2 separate regions of the Homo sapiens genome follow, and region 1 is linked to region 2. A link means that fine-mapping ties the variant in region 2 to the expression of a gene that starts in the linked region. Tissue or cell type: esophagus mucosa. Region 2 holds a variant in brackets; the other region holds the start of a gene. All regions are shown on one strand. Distances are between the middles of the regions. Region 1 holds the start of TPRG1 (tumor protein p63 regulated 1). Region 2 overlaps TPRG1 (tumor protein p63 regulated 1).

Region 1 (4,400 bases), 33 kb before region 2:
GAGTGTTCAGTGGCCGCTGGAAACCTAACGATAATTAGATGGATGCCGTGTGAACAATTGATGTCTTTTCACAGAGTTTCTTGCCCTTTAAAATAGCATACTTCAAACAGCAGTGCATTGCTTAGTCCTTCTCTTAAGAGACCAGGCTGGGATCCAGCATGTCTCCACTCCTCCTGCCTTTTGTGCCCCCACCCTGAGCTGTCATAAAGACATTTGGAGCTGAGTGGGAACGGTATTTGCCTCGCAATTATTTCTAATTGCCCTGTAGTTTTGTGGCGTCTAAGTGGTGTGACCTAGATACCGGTTCTGTAAAACTCTCTTTTCAGCCTGGGGTCTGTATTAGGGAGGGGGCATAAATCAGTTTGATCAGGTAACTGTGGCTGAGTCCATCTCACCAATAACATTTATACCCAACTCTACCATCTGTGCTTGTTGAAATCCTGGCTCTTCTTAACAGCCCGGATCTAATGCCGCCTCCACCGCTGTGCAGCCTTCCTGGAGTTGCTCCCTCCTCTGGATTACCATAGTACTTGTTAGGATCCTGTCTGTGGTGCTCATCATCTTCTATATCGTGCAATGCTAATTCACTTACAAATTTTATCTTCTTGAGCTCCTTATGCCAGAGAATGTGTTTGGTTCCTTTTCATATCCTTGTCTATGTGGATAACTGAGAAAGCTCAAGGTAGTTGCTCAGTTAACTACTGTTGAGTTAGTATACATGACGTCCTCGACACGGTGGAAGCAGGTAAAAGGACTGTTTATTCATTGTGACCTCTCCTGAGTGGCGAGTTGCCAGTTTGCACTTCATTTCCTGTGGAATCGCTTCATGACCTCAGTATTCCTGGAACTTTAAACAACATTTTTTGAAGGGTGAATATTAGTTATTTTTCTTTTAAAAGAATGGAATTCAACCAATTTACTTTGTCAGCGCACACCCGTTCCTCCAGCCATCAAACAAATACAATCTGATTTGGCCAGAGTCTGCTGAATGAAGTAGAGAATTTAGGATAGAAGATTGAAATTCAATCATACACATAACAGCATTTTGTTTTCTGTGCTCTCCTTTCTTTCAGCAATCCACCTACTTGTGCAGTTCATACTTTATTTTATACCAACTCTGTATGTAGAACACACTTGCTTAGGTTTCAGAATGTGTTCATTAAGATTCTATTTCATTTTTTTAGCACCGTTGCTATGTCAAATCTTATCCTAGGTTTATTCTCATATGCTTCCTTTCAAGTTCTATCTGCATTTCTGAAGGAGAAATGATACTCTCAACTTACAGATGACCAAAATTAAAAAACCTCAGAAAGATAGATTATGACTTGCTATAGGCTGCAAAGCCATTAAATGACAGATCAGGATTCACTAAATAGATATTAATGGATCATCATTAATTCAATGTGTATTTATTTATTACCTACTATCTGCTGGGTGTTTTGAGGAGTATATGAGAGAATAAGATGTAGCATTGCCCTCAAGGGGCCCCCCATCTAGGGAGGGGGATACACACTTACATAGAGACAATATCATGTGGCACATTTCCTAATAGGAATACTGACCAGAGATTGTGTGTACATGTGTTTGTTTTCAGAGATACACTGCTCTACATGTCTTCTACATTTTTGACAAGAGTGGTAGTGATGCTTAAAATCACAAATATCCAATAAATCAAGCCATCATAAAGAATATTAATGATAGGAGTGTAGGCCTCAGGCTTAAGCTTAATTATAACTACTTGGAGGCATACAGAAGCCATGGAGGAATGGATGATAGGCTGCTCCTGCTCCCTCAGCTGGATGTGTATTAGAGGGAGTTGGCAGAAAAATGCAGGACTTCTTGAGGGAGAGGACAGGAGGTAAAGGTGTGTCATTGCAGAACAAGAAAGGCCCCACCCACAAACCCAATTCTCTGCCTCTGACGGGTTGAGTTCCACCCTGTAAACATCCTCAGTCCTTTCATTTGACTATTTGAGGGTGGCAGTGTAACTCTCAGCCTACTTGGTGAAGTGAGATTCAGACTGAGTGGGGTCACAGCACAGGGCACTGTCTTGCCTGGCTTTATCTGAGCCAATCACACCTCTCCTGGCCACTATCTGTGGTCTAGCCCCCTTTGTGCAGAAAGAGAAAGAAGAGCCTTGAGGACCAGCCTAGTCAGGTAAGATCAAGTGGCTTGTCACTGGTTCTGCAGAGATGGGTTATTTCTCTATGAACCAATTGCTTCTGTCCCCTAAGCCGAGTTTCTGGTCACCTCCCCCACTGACTTGCAGTTTGGTTTAGGTTTGTAGTTTTGCATTACCATGTGAAATTTCCCTATTCTTCCTTACTGTCCAGGGTTGATGAGGCTTGTAGGCTAGCATTTTTTAGCCTATAAAGCCACTTGACATACTTATCTATATATTGATTTTGATCTTAACTGCCCTATAGTGCAGTAGGATGGGTATAATTTTCTCCATTTGGTGGCTTAGTGAACTGAAGCTTGGTCAATTGAAGTGATTTGTTCCAATTGGATCAGCAGGTTAAGGCCAAGATTAGATTTGATTCCTTCTTCCCTCTTCCTCTATTATAGAACCCAGCAGGTCATACCTTATCCCCAAAAGCCAAAAGAAGTGAAAAGCCTTTCTGAACCGTTAAATGGCAAACAAAAGGTGATTATTTCTTTGCAGGCAGTTTGAGAGGGTTATTTTTGAATTCATCTGAGGGAAATTTCATAATAATATATAGGTCCCATCAAACAGGGCTGTTTTTAGAGAACAAACGAGGGCATGTATGTAAAGGGGAGTTGTAAACTGAAAGGTGATAGGCAAATGAGACAGCGATGACTACTTGGCGCCTGAGACATCCTCCAGATCTCTGTATAAGCAGGTTTTAATTCGGGGCTAAATGACACTCTCCAAATGTCAGAGGCAGCGTAGTGAGGCACAGATCATACAGGCCCTGGGGAAATATTTTAGCTTTTCAGTCACACTGTGGTATGTAGAAAAGCAAATCTCAATGGGGGAAAAACACCCCCAAATCCTTTCAAATACACTCATGCAATTTCCTCTCTTGTGACAGCTATCATAGTATCTCATTGTTCTACAGTTTTAAGGAAATCTCATCTTCAGTTATTATGTAGTTTACTTTTTAAGATGCTAATTTTAGCTATCATTTTTCTTTTCATGCTCAAAAGGTTATATCATTCTTAGTTGTGGAAGGAAATGTTTCCTCTGTGTGTGTGTGCATGTGTGTATGTGTGTGTGTGTCTGTTTGAGTTTATTATGACAGTACTGATAGTCATCCCTTGGGGCCACCACAAATGCATTGGGTTGTAATGCTATATAATCTTTGGCAGACTTCTATATATTCTTTTTCTTTCTTTTCTTCTTCTTTTTTTTTTTTTTTGAGACAGAGCCTTGCTCTGTTGCCCAGGCTGGAGGGTAGTGGCGCGATCTCGGCTCACTGCAGCCTCCACCTCCCGGGTTCAAGCGATTCTCCTGCCTCAGCCTCCTGAGTAGCTGGGATTACAGGCATGCACCACCACACCTGGCTAGTTTTTGTATTTTTAGTAGAGACGGGGTTTCACCATGTTGGTCAGGCTGGAACTTCTATATATTCTTGGTGTCTTTCTGGCTGTAAGGATCCTGAAGAAATCGTTTAATTGATTACTTTATTCAAAACAGAGAAACTGAGGCCCAGAAAGATGAAGTGATATGCACAAGTCACACAGCCAGTATCATTGGAGCTGCAAGTCACATATGGGTCTCTTACTCTTTCATTGCCCACAATATGTAGTGAATGGTGCTAGGAGTCCCAAGCAGAAGCATTAGCCATGTCATTTTGGAGACTGTAACTAGATGTCCTTTAAGATTTCTTCCAATTAAGAGTTTTAGGGCACTTTGACCTTTGCTTAGCATCTACTGGAGATGGTATCATGCCCTTTAGAGCAGGGAAATCTGTCAGAGAAGCCTCTCTCTTTATTGACTTGGTTCTTCTGGAATATTTGCTTCGGCCAAATGTTGGAGCTGCTCCTTAGGTATAAGATGGGGAGATGGGCAAGAGGTGGTGGCATCTTCATTTTCTTCAGCCTGTCTGGATTTTTATATTTTCTGGGATCTTCCTAAATAAGTGCCACTCAGTTTGATCCTTTTAAAACTTGAAGTGATAGTTGATATTTTACTCAACATTGTTTAATCTAATGGCAGCGTCAAGTCCGAGAATTCATTTACTCCAGAGCTTGCAGAGCAGCAGCCACAGGTGAATCCAGCATGCAGATGTGCTTTGTTTGTGCTGCCATGTTAAACAAGATAAAACTAGTTCCAAAGTATTTGATATCTAGGAAATTTCCTGTAAAAAATCCAGATATCTTGTTTTCAGGAAGATCAGGAGATCTGATAATAATGGACCCACATCCCCTCATGG
Region 2 (4,400 bases):
TGCTTCTATAATATTATTAGAAAAATTCTCAGAGAGATAGATGAAGTTCCTTATAAATGGAAGCAGTTATACTTAGACCAGGATCTGGAAATAAGTTATTTACTATAATACTATATTAAATTTAGTTCTGAATTTTCTGGCAGCTGAGAAATATAGTATTTCTATTGTCTAATCAAAGGCAAGGTAGTACTTCCTTAAGGCTTTATTTGGGATTTTTTTTTTAATGCTAAAAAAATCAGCACTACTGCCATTTAATTTTTTTAAAAGAGCAAAAATTGACGCACAATCCACTACTTCAATAAATATAACTATTTTCTTTCTAGTCTTTACCAATGTGAAATTATTCAGTGGAACATTCCAAGATAAAATATTTTTGGTTTCCTGCTTTATTTCACTCAAGAAGATACAACTGTTAATCTCGTGCTACTGCAATGTTTGCGTGTTATTTTGAATGCCTGTGTAATACCAGTTGGATATACTTAGCCATTCCTTGAACATTAGGTGTTTAGTTGGTTTTCCATTTTTCATTACTACTCAGAATAAGCAATTAATATTGTAGCATTTTGCTTCTTTCAGGTAGTTTTTATTACATGAATTCCCTGGAATGAGAAGATTCCATGAAAAAGTATGAACATTGGCTGGGCAAGGTGGCTCATGCCTATAATCCCAGGACTTTGGGAGACTGAGGCGGGTGGATCACGAGGTCCAGAGATCAAGACCATCCTGGCCAACATGGTGAAACTCTGTCTCTACCAAAAATACAAAAAATTAGCTGGGCATGGTGGCAAGCACCTGTAGTCCCAGCTGCTCTGGAGGCTGAGGCAGAAGAATTGCATGAACCCAGGAGGCGGAGAATGCAGTGAGCCTAGATCGTGCCACTGCACTTCAGCCTGGTGACAGAGCGAGACTGTCTCAAAAAAAAAAAAAAAAAAAAAAAAACTGAACATCATTTACTTTTTCTAAGTTTTGACCCTTTGTTTTCCTATGAAATTGTGCTGCCTTTACTCTCTAAATGAAGATATAAATTTACTGGGAAATATTACAGAACAGCAAATCTTTTCAGTTCTAAAAGGCTCCCAATGAGTTTGTTGCAGGGGATGATTGATCTATGTGAAAGCAATGGAACATTTGATTTTGATCTGTTACTGGTATTAATGTACCTTTAGCATTTCACGGAATACAGCCTATGCAGGGATAGAAGAGCACTTACTATTGAATTGGGAATGAACTGGGCCAGAGGTCATGAGAAATAGAGTGGAATGTGTAGATGTGCAGCACGCTTCTCCTGTTGGGGAAGCTGAGGAAGTTCTGTTTATTGTTCTTCTAAGATGTTCCTGTGACTGGAACAGAGCTGGAATTACTCTGGATTGGGATAGCTGGGCTCAACTTTCCCACTATTTATGGCAGTGAGAATTTAAACGGAGCTGAGAGTTTCCTTCTTTCCTGGATCTCAAACAGCTTGGTCTCAGAGCGCAGAGCTTCCCCAAGTGTTTCCAGAGAAGACAGCCTGAGGGAGAGGAAGTGGTGCTAATTAAATCCTCCCTCTGTTTTCCAGGCACAGGAGCCTTTCGCAGATGTCTGTTGTTAGGCGTGTGTTCACAGAGTGCGCAAATACAGAAGCAGGCTTTCCTTCCCCAATGGCACAAACCTTCCTTCACAGGTTATAGAGAACTTTAGAAATGCATTTCCTTCCAACACCCACTGTGATAAAGGTGGCAGACCTGCATAAATACAGCATGTAGCTGCCAGGGACAGGAAGGTCAGAGTGCCTCCTCTGTCTGTCTTTCTTTCTCTGTCTCTGTCTCTATGTCTCTCTCTCTCTCTCACACACACACACACACACACACACACACATACACTCTTTCTCCTGCTTCTTCATTCCTTGTTTTCTCAGAGACCAATTTCTACCTTTTGCACACCTAACTTTAAAAGATCACCTAAAAGCTCAGAGACATCTTTTCTGTCAT[A/G]AGGCAGATGTTGGGTGTGCTATACTGGGGGCATGGTTGGGAGGACACTTGCTGCTACGACTATTCAAGTGTGACCCTGGGTGGTTCCCATCTACTCTGTGTTCCTCAGAAAGATGGGGAAAGACTAAGTAGCTCTTCTAGGATTGCTGGAAAGATCGGATAAGAAAACATATAAAGCTTAAGAAATCATATAAAGCAAACTGCATAAGGCTTTCCACTTGTGAGTTACCTTAGCTGTGTTTTCTACATTCAAATCCTCAGGGTGAACATATATATAGAGCCACATTTGCCTGAGACTGTCCAGTTCACTCCTATCATCCTGACATAATTGTCAATAGCACCCTTTTCATGCCAAAATATCCCAAAATTAGCTAATAAATTATATGATCATACTATTTTTACCTCTTGTGAATAGCCTAGTTAATCCCAATTTCAAAAGCGGAAGCTTGCTGGGGATAGGGGCTTCTTCTCACCTTCTTTTGTTTCACAAGAACCAAGGAAATTGATTAAAAACCACTTTTGTTTAAGAACAAGGAGGTGACTCCGAGAATAATATGGCATTCCTACTTTCATGGTGAAAATGGACATGAAACTTTCTAGGTAGCATTGATAACATGCTCACTGTCAGCTTGAAAGGATTTGAGTGCACAGGCTAAGCTAACATGTGTCTTCTATTTTATTTTGCTTTGCTTTATATGTACAAAATAGAAACCAAGATATTATTTTTATTTATTTTTAAACCATGTGTGATCATTACTAGCACCCACAGACATGCAAACAAAAATAAAAATCACCTCTAACACTGTCATCTAGAGATAACTATTGTTATATTTTATTTTACTTCTTTTCAGGCCCTCTTTTTAGACATTTTTAAATCTGTTATACCATACATGTGTGCCTGTATATACATATGCAGGTACATTTCCTTCCTTCCTTCCTTCCTTCCTTCCTTCCTTTCTTCTGTCTTTCTTTCTTTTTTCTTTCTTTCTTTTTCTTTCTTTCTTTCTTTCCTTCTTTCTTTCTTCTCTTTTTTCCTTCTTCCTTTCCTTTCCTTCTTTATCTTTCTTCTCTTTCTTTCTAAATTATTTTAACAAATTGGAATAATATTATTTATAATATTTTTTAACTTACTTTTTTCCATTTATAATATATTTTGGATATTTTTCTGTGATAAAATATACACTCACACTTTCAGTGATAACATTGTATTTACAGTGCAACATATTTTATTTAGTCAACTTCTTACTGATGGATACTTATTTTATTTTATTTTTTGGTGTTAGACTCAATGTTGCATGAATGTCTAATGTTTTTACATACAGTGTTGTATGAGATATAAAGTGGTGTGTTTTTCTTTTATATATAACCTGGTATATTTTTCTATTAGATGCGGTGTTGTGATGAACAAACTTTTTTTTTTTTTTTTTTGAGACAGGGTCTTGCTCTGTTGCCTAGCCTGGAGTGCAGTGGCATGATCTTGACTCACTGCAACTTCCACTTCCTGTGCTCAGGTGAACCTCCCACCTCAGCCTACCGAGTAGCTGAGACTATGGGCACATTCCGCCATGTCTGGCTAATTTTTGTATTTTTTGTAGAGACTGGGTTTCGCCATGTTGCCCAGGCTGGTCTCAAACTCCTGAGCACAAGGGATCTACCAGCCTCAGACTCCTAGAATGCTGGGATTACAGGCATGAGTCACCATGCCCAGCTGAACAACCGTGTGTGTGTGTGTGTGTGTGCACGCGTGTATGCATGTGCGTGTGTGTGAGTCTTTGGGTATTCGTCTAATTATTTTCTTAGAATAAATTTTTAGAATTCGAATCTTTCAGTTAAAAACATGTTCAGTTCTAAGTGCTCTTATGCTCTATTATGACTCAAGAAGCACACAAGAAAATGCATTATCATTGCTTTTAACTCTTAAATAAGCTTGCAGTCTGGTGAATTTTCAACCAAAAATGCTATGCAATTTTGAAGAGAAATTGTCTGGTAATTATTTTATATAGCTCTTCTCTTGTTCAGGTTCCTGTCTCCTGGGATTAAACTCCTTTTCTCTGTCCGGAGAGTCTCTCCTTCACTTCTCTGGTAAATGACCTTGCAGGATTGTGGATGGTATTTAGAAGTCTGTGTTATGAAGCTGTATCCACCAATGCCTCTGTTTAGTTAACATGAAGGATGTTTTTAAGTTTCAGGAATTCCGTTTGCTCATCATATTCTGTTTTGCCATAGCTAGGACACAGGTACAGAGGTAACATTTTTTCAATGAGATTTTTCTGCCCTTGGTTTAGGCTGAAGAAATGTCAACAATTGGGAGTTTTGAAGGATTCCAGGCTGTGTCTCTGAAGCAAGAGGGAGATGACCAACCCTCTGAGACTGACCACCTATCGATGGAGGAAGAGGACCCGATGCCAAGACAGATTTCAAGGCAGTCAAGTG

The links. PIP is the estimated chance that this variant, and not a neighbour inherited with it, causes the effect.
Region 1: it holds the start of TPRG1, and the variant in region 2 is the best candidate, but not a certain one, in a credible set for the expression of TPRG1 in esophagus mucosa (GTEx, PIP 0.64).

What each region holds. Positions count from the first base shown.
Region 1 is chr3:189,169,975-189,174,374 of GRCh38, forward strand. TPRG1 (tumor protein p63 regulated 1) reads left to right here and starts at 1,997. Exons shown (of 6, transcript NM_198485.4): 1 at 1,997-2,157.
Region 2 is chr3:189,203,124-189,207,523 of GRCh38, forward strand. It overlaps TPRG1 (tumor protein p63 regulated 1), which reads left to right. Exons shown (of 6, transcript NM_198485.4): 2 at 4,253-4,400. The coding sequence starts at 4,262. Among named protein-coding and RNA genes, the nearest start is that of TPRG1, 33 kb to the left of the region's middle. The variant A/G (reference allele first, on the strand shown) is at 1,968.